Linked DNA regions of Homo sapiens. The protein of the gene in region 1 purifies or fractionates together with the protein of each later gene. This does not show direct contact. Each region holds a gene or a part of one and is shown on either strand. Other genes may lie near its edges. The genes, in order: TBL1X and KIF11.

What was found.
Region 2: the proteins of TBL1X (region 1) and KIF11 fractionate together in Homo sapiens (co-fractionation; one large-scale study listed by BioGRID). This does not show direct contact.

Annotation. Positions count from the first base shown.
Region 1 is NC_000023.11:9,713,000-9,716,823, forward strand, and holds part of TBL1X (F-box-like/WD repeat-containing protein TBL1X), read left to right. Parts: intron 1-1,902; coding exon 1,903-2,004; intron 2,005-3,220; coding exon 3,221-3,247; 3' UTR 3,248-3,824. UniProt on the Homo sapiens protein: F-box-like protein involved in the recruitment of the ubiquitin/19S proteasome complex to nuclear receptor-regulated transcription units. Plays an essential role in transcription activation mediated by nuclear receptors.
Region 2 is NC_000010.11:92,634,450-92,638,273, forward strand, and holds part of KIF11 (kinesin-like protein KIF11), read left to right. Parts: intron 1-2,734; coding exon 2,735-2,860; intron 2,861-2,937; coding exon 2,938-3,096; intron 3,097-3,824. UniProt on the Homo sapiens protein: Motor protein required for establishing a bipolar spindle and thus contributing to chromosome congression during mitosis. Required in non-mitotic cells for transport of secretory proteins from the Golgi complex to the cell surface.

The DNA.
Region 1 (3,824 bases):
CCTTTTGGCTTGGTTGACATTCAGGTGGATTTATACCCTCAAGTTCATTCCCCCTGTGGACTCAATGGTGATGAGCCCTGTTCACTGGCAAGGGGTCCACTGAGATCACAGGCTTCCCAGGGACCTCATGTGAACCACATCCTCTCAGGGAAGGAAGGGAAATGGTGGACCCTGCGTAGAGCCAACCCGACGCCAAGCCCAGCCCCACAGCCCTAGATAGCTCTCCGGGAAGCACGCATCTCAGCACTAGTGTCCAAGAGTCTCCGTTCCTGAAATCCTCGCTAGAAATAGTAATGGGTGGATTTGTAAAAAGAACACATCAATTATCAAAACAATGACATGATCAGTTAGGTACAGCCTGTTGTCAGGAACTCACTGAACTGTTTCAACCCTTTTTTATAAATCAAAGAAATCCTTAGGACTTTTCTTTTTTTTTTTTTTTTTTGGATCGGAGTTTCACTCTCGTCACCCAGGCTGGAGTACAGTGATGCCATCTCGGCCCACTGCGACCTCTGCCTCCCGGGTTTGAGCGATTCTCCTGCCTCAGCCTCCCGAGTAGCTGGGATTACAGGTGCGCACCACCACAGCCGGCTAACTTTTGTATTTTTAGTACAAACGGGGTCTCACCATGTTGGCCAGGCTGGTGTTGAACTCCTGACCCCAGGCAATCTACCCACCTCGGCCTCCCAAAGTGCTGGGATTACAGGCATGAGCCACCGCGCCCGGCCAAGAAATCCTTAGGAATTTTCTTAAGAGAAATCTTAAAGCCCACTTTAATCTTTCTCCAAGTATAAAAATACTTATCTGTAATACTGCCGACACACACCTTTCTCAGTTCATGGAACACCACCCTTTAAGGGGCCCAATTGAGCAGAGGATTTGGGACAGCCCTCCTGGTCTCGGTGTTCAGATTTCTCCTGCCTGTCACCATAGTGAATCATGAGTGAAGGCTTATTCGACTCTTTCTCTCTTTTTTATTTTTTAAAATTAATTTTTGTAGAGACGAAGTCTCACTGTGTTGCCCAGGCTAGTCTTGAACTCTTGGGCTCAATCCGTCCTCCCGCCTCGGCCTCCCAAAGTGCTGGGATTACAGGGTGAGCCACCTCGCCTGGCCTTATTCAACTCTTTCAAAGGCCTCAACTTCCCCTACCTCTTAGATTTGTCAAGTTAATGCTGTTTTAAACCGGAAACCAATGGTCTGTGGTGTTTTCCATTACATGTATATTATGCATTTCTTCTTTCAAATGTCCAAAAATACGTACATTTTAATGTCATGGCATATTATTACATTTAATCATGAATTACAGTCAATTTAATTGCTACTGGGGTGGGTGTATTCATTATGTTGTATTCATTCAGGTCCTCCAAAGAACAGACACCAGAACAGGATTAGATGGGCGAGAGATTTATTGGGGGAAAGAGCTGTGATGGAAACAGGGAGGAAGGTAGGGGGAAGGGAGAATTCAGACCATAAGGCCAGTCTGACCCTGGGAAGGAGACGGGAAGGGTAGGAAGAGTCAGGGATGGCCCTTACAGGTCTGTAGAAAGTTTTGGTCGTGCTGATGGAGAGTCCATGAGCCACTTACCCACCAGATGAGTCTGAGTCTCAGCAGGTGACTGCCATGGTCTCCCGCCTCCATCAGTCCTCAGCTGGGTGCAGCCTCAGAATCCACGCAAATGTGGCAGATTCCGCAGGCATAAGTAATCAGGTTCACTCCTCGTGGTGGGAAGTCCTAGAGGCACATCTCCATGGCCCCCAGAGTCCTTACTGAAAACCCTTAAATTTCACCATGCTTGAAAATGTTCATGACGAAACGTCAGGGCCGGAGGAGCGCACATTCCACACCTGCATCTGTCGCAGGCGCCCCTTGCGTTGTAAGTGACAGCTGCTTTGCTTTGCAGAGTGGAAATCTTGTCCACAGCTACCGAGGCACTGGCGGCATCTTCGAGGTGTGCTGGAACGCCCGAGGAGACAAAGTGGGTGCCAGCGCGTCCGACGGCTCTGTAAGCAACACCTCTGGTTTGCTGGGGAGTGGGGTGTTGGGGGCAGCTGATGCCTAAGTGAGCTTCCAGGGCGTGTGCAGCATTCGTGTCCTGAAGGGCCTAGCCCAGTGCCAAAGGAAGCTTCTGGGCTGGATCCCATCGGAGTTGGTACCACATCTGGGAATGGCCTTCTCCTTGTCCCTTCCAGAGTGTCCTTCTAGTCAACATTTTCTCAGTCAAATTGGTGGTTCTCAACCAGGGTGATTCTGCACCTCTAAGGACATTAGACAATATCTGGAGCCATTTTAGGTTGTCACTACAGTCATGTGTCGCTTAATGACGGGAACGTTTTGGGAAATGTGTCATTAGGCACTTTTATCTTTGTCTGAACATCATAGAGTGACTGACACAAACCTAGATGATAATACCTGTCCCACACCGAGGCTGTGTGGTACAGCCTATTGCTCCCAGGCTACAAACCTGGACAGCGGGTGACCATACTGATTCCTGTAGGCAACCAGAACACAATGGTAAGCATTTGTGCGTCCGGATCTATCTAAACATAGAAAAGGTTCAGCAGATATATGGTTATAATCTTACAGGACCACTGCGGTCTGTGCGGTGCGTTGTTGCTGGAAACGTCATTATGTGACGCGTGACTGTGCTTAGATGAGGATGCTGCTAAACCTCCTACTGTGCACAGGGTGGCCACAATTGTCACCCATGCTGTGGCTGAGAAGCCCGGGCCTCTGGTGGCCATCCTGCAGGTCTCCTGGGCCCTCTTCTCTTCCCATGGGGCATCTGGATTTCTTATTTTCCCCTGGACTTGAGGTTGCCCTGACCTCTGGGGCAAGCGGCCGTTCTGGCTGAACGGCCAAGGGTCAGAGTAGTCCCCAAATGTTGTCAGAGGCTGTGTACTTGGGCTCGTATTGTCATCTGCCCCACGATTGCAGGTGTCCCTTCTGGGACCTCTGCCACTCTGTTAATTCCTATCATTACCCTTAACCTGGCCTTTCTGCTCTGTGCTGTTTGCTTCAGTTTGCTCGGTCCGATGTCCAGATGCCAGTCTGTTATGAGAGCTTCTCTGACCCTTCATGACGATGTTCCAATAAACTTTACTGACAAACATCGGTGGAGGGCTAGATTGGGCGTGGGGGCCGTAGCTTGCCGACTTCTCACTCTAAAGGCATCTTTGTATTGTCTCTCAAGATGACAGGTGCTTTATCTTTCCTTCCAGGTGTGTGTTTTGGATCTGCGGAAGTAACCACAAAATATTATCGAAAAAAGAAAAGAATTCTAATGACCAGCCGTGAATGTGTAGGGTTGCAGCTCTATTCTCCAAAACTGTAGGAACTTGACTTGCGTTAGAGTGTACTCTGAAACCAACTCGTCTCTGGCCGCAGGAGTCTATATGTTTTCGTAATCTTCATCAAGAAGTTTTTAAAAGGCAAGCAAAAACAGAAGCAAATCATATCAAACGGGGATAGAATGGTTTCCACTGAGGACATTCAGCCTGGGAAGGAGGAAGTCACCAGCTCGAGGCGTGTGGATTGGTTTCCACCCGGAACAGGCTCTGTGATGGCTGAATGGAAAGAAACGTAAAAAGCTGTGCCAAAAAAAAAGCAAAATGCTGTGATAAACCAAACAGGGAAGGGGGAAAAACCCTCCTCCTTGGGATTTTTTTTTTTTGTTTTCCCTAACAATTTGGACACTACAATTGCTCTCACAAAGGAGGTTCAAAGACCAGTTTGTACCGATGAAACGCGCAACTTTGTAATCCCAACACTTTCTATTTTCTAGAATCTTCTTTGTTCATTGGGTGGTTTTTCAGTCGGCTGGAA
Region 2 (3,824 bases), on another chromosome or scaffold:
TTTTAGTAGAGATGGTGTTTTACCATGTTGGTCAGGCTGGTCTCAAGCTCCTAACCTCAAGCAATCCACCCACCTCGGCCTCCCAAAGCGCTGGGATTACAGGCGTGAGCCACCGTGCCCGGCCGAGAGTACGTTTATATTTTTAAAGACAGATCTCTCCACTGTTTATTCTCTCCCAGAAAGATTATTTTCAAATGTATGGAACTAACTTTTGAAACCTTTTTCACTCATGTCTTGTAACATTAGGAGTAGCAGTTATTAGTGAGGCTTCTAATGACTAAAGGGCAAGTTTAGCACCACATGATATCAAGGGACTTGTTAGTTGGCCCAGAAATTGGCAAGTCACTCTTTCCCCAGGGGTCCTGGACCCAACCAGAAGGGGATATTGGGTAGCTGATTTTAAAACTACAGTAATATATGATAGTAATAATGGTGCAAGAAAAATATCTTAGAATTCTGGGGACACATATCACTTCTTAGGGTTAGATCTGTGTGGCCCCTTCTGGGCCATAACTATAAATCTTTTCTCCAGAGTTCTATGGAAGTCACTCATCTAATTGCACTTAATATTACCTCCTTCATACTTGATTTATATATAGTCTTTATTTTATAATTGTATGGTTGGTCTAGGAAGTTCTTAGCCATATAATTTATTTGTTTTCTTTGTGCAGAGTCTTTGCCTCCCTTTTTCAGCTTAACAATATTTATTAAACATTTTCCAAGTAAATACTACAAATGTTAGCTGACCCTCTGCCTCAATTCAGTGCTTAGATGACATTATTTGATAGGTTTTCTCAATCACCCAAATTTGACAAAATTAAAAGATATCCTGTCAGTACTAACTTTTCAAATATTGATTCATTCATTAAATGGTGGTCTGTATATATATAGGCATACTTCAGAGATATTGCAGGTTTGCTTCCAGACCACTGCAATAAAGTGAATATTACAATAAAGCAAGTCATGAATTTTTTGCTTTCCCGGTGCATATAAAGGTTATGTTGACCAGGCGCAGTGGCTCACACCTGTAATTCCAGCACACGCCTGGTGGGACAATCAGAACACAACGTTTATCAGTTACATTTGCTGTCTTATAGGGGTACAGTTTATGGTACCCCAAGACAATTACAATAGTAACATCAAAGATCATTGATCACAGTGTATAATGAAAAAGTTAGAAATACTGTAGTAGTTACCAACATGTGATGCAGAGACAGAAAGTGAGCACATGATATTTGAAAAAAGTCACTGATAGACGTGCTCAAGGTAGGGTTGCCACAAACCTTCAATTTGTAAAAATTTGGTATCTGTGACACATAGTAAGGTGAAGCACAATAAAATAAGCTATGCCTGAATTGATACATTTCTACTTACCAAGTTACAATTTTTGCTTGAATTAAAAGAAAAGAGGCATGTTGCTCTCACAAAATTAGTTGAAATTGGTATGCTAGCTCTTCTTTCCAAAAGAATGTCAGTAGACCTATAAGTATTTACTAATGTATTTCTGTTATACTTCCTCAGCCCTATCCTACCAAAAGGAGATTAGATCAGGATTTTTTTTCTTTTTATAAATATTTCCAATCTATACTACATTCTTAATTTCCCTATTTCTTGACAAGAACAACATCTTTCACAAGTTCTTCTGATACAATAGGATGTAAGTCATCTCAGATCTTCAAAGTTAAGTACTTCCAGCCCAAGGGCTAATCTTGATGACTACTTGGTCTCAGCCTTTTTGACTGGTAACCTAAACTTGTTTGAAATTTATTTTCTTAAAATATACCTGTAGGTTTTTAAAAATTTATTTTGTTTGGAGTGCTGAAATCTTATTAACTGTCATTTTCCTCTTTTGAATTCTTCTGACTTCTATTTCATTAAACTATTAAATAGTTCTGGCTGGGTGCGGTGGCTCATCTCAGCACTTTGGGAGGCCAAGGTGGGTGGATCACTTGAGGTCAGGAGTTCGAGACCAGCCTGGCCAACATGGTGAAACCCTGTCTTTACTGAAATACAAACATTAGCTAGGCGTGGTAGCAGGTGCCTGTAATCCCAGCTACTTGGGAGGCTGAGGCAGGTGAATCGCTTGAACCCAGGAGGCGGAGGTTGCAGTGAGCCAAGATCACGCCATTGCACTCCAGCCTGGGCCACGAGAGTGAAACTATATCTCAAAAAAAGAAAAAAAGAAATTCTGTGTTTTCACTGGGCTTGAAAAAAGAGAAATTATTATATTTATTGTAATATAATAAATTATTGTATTATTGTATTGATTTATCTATGTAGAGTATAAAAAATGGAGAATGGGGCCGGGCGCGGTGGCTCACGCCTGTAATCTCAGCACTTTGGGAGGCCACGGGGGGCGGATCACCTGAGGTCAGGAGTTCCAGACCAGCCTGGCCAACATGGCGAAACCCCATCTCTACTAAAAATACAAAAATTAGCTGGGTGTGGTGGCTCACACCTATAATCCCAGCTACTCCGGAGGCTGAGGCAGGAGAATCACTTGAACCCAGGAGGCAGAGGTTGCAGTGAGCCAAGATGTTGCCACTGTACTCCAACCTGGGTGACAGAATGAGACTCCGTCTCAAAAAAAAAAAAAAAAAAAAAGAATGGAGAATGGAAATGTAAATTTTAATGTGAATGTTTAGCTACCAAAGTATTTAAGATATCATTTAGAAAGGTTTACAGAAGTGGAAATATTCTTTTTAAAGACCTATTTGTTTATTTCTGAAACCAGAATGTACTCAAGACTGATCTTCTAAGTTCACTGGAAATGATTTTATCCCCAACTGTGGTGTCTATACTGAAAATCAATAGTCAACTAAAGCATATTTTCAAGACTTCATTGACAGTGGCCGATAAGGTAACAAATGCTATGTTCTTAATATCTCAAAATTGATGTGTTGTTTAAGAAGGAAACTCATTTTTGTTTCTTCAAAGATAGAAGATCAAAAAAAGGAACTAGATGGCTTTCTCAGTATACTGTGTAACAATCTACATGAACTACAAGAAAATACCATTTGTTCCTTGGTTGAGTCACAAAAGCAATGTGGAAACCTAACTGAAGACCTGAAGACAATAAAGCAGACCCATTCCCAGGTATGTTGTTTAGCGGACTTGGGGAGTACAGAAAGAGAGTTTTAGGATGATTTGATATGACTTGATAATTAATCTATGTTACACAATCTGAATACTGTAAAAGCTGAAACCTGAAAATACCATAGCCACTGTTGCTTATAACAGTAATTATTGTAGAACAATTGAGAATACTTCTCTTAATATTTGAAGTTTTGCTACATCTAGAACCCCATGCAGAACCACAATATGACAAAACAGTCCTTTTCTCACATCAAGATGAAAGATGAATCTGGAAAAACATACCTTTAGAGAAGAATGGTTATAACATTTAAAGTGAAAATGTATCTACATTAAAACCTGCTAAGTTGTTTCTAGGATGGCATGGATAGTTGTCTTTCATAAACCAAGTCCTACTTTCTCTTATTTCTGTCTCACTGATAGACATTTAAAACATAGTAAATCGATACAACTTTTAATTCTTATTGATTATAAATGTAATTCATGATTTATCTTCCCTGTAAACTGTTCCTCATTATATGAGGCTTTAAACCAAAACCAAGCCTTCAAACCATAATCTGTAAATATCAGATATCTGAAAAACAGCTTCTGGTATTCTTAAGACTTTAATAATGACTGTCTAAAGTTTTATTAAATGAGCTTATTATAATATGACAGAACTCTTATAATAGTTAACATTTATTGAGCAATTCACTGTGTTTATTCCTCCCATCAATATAGATATAAATTCT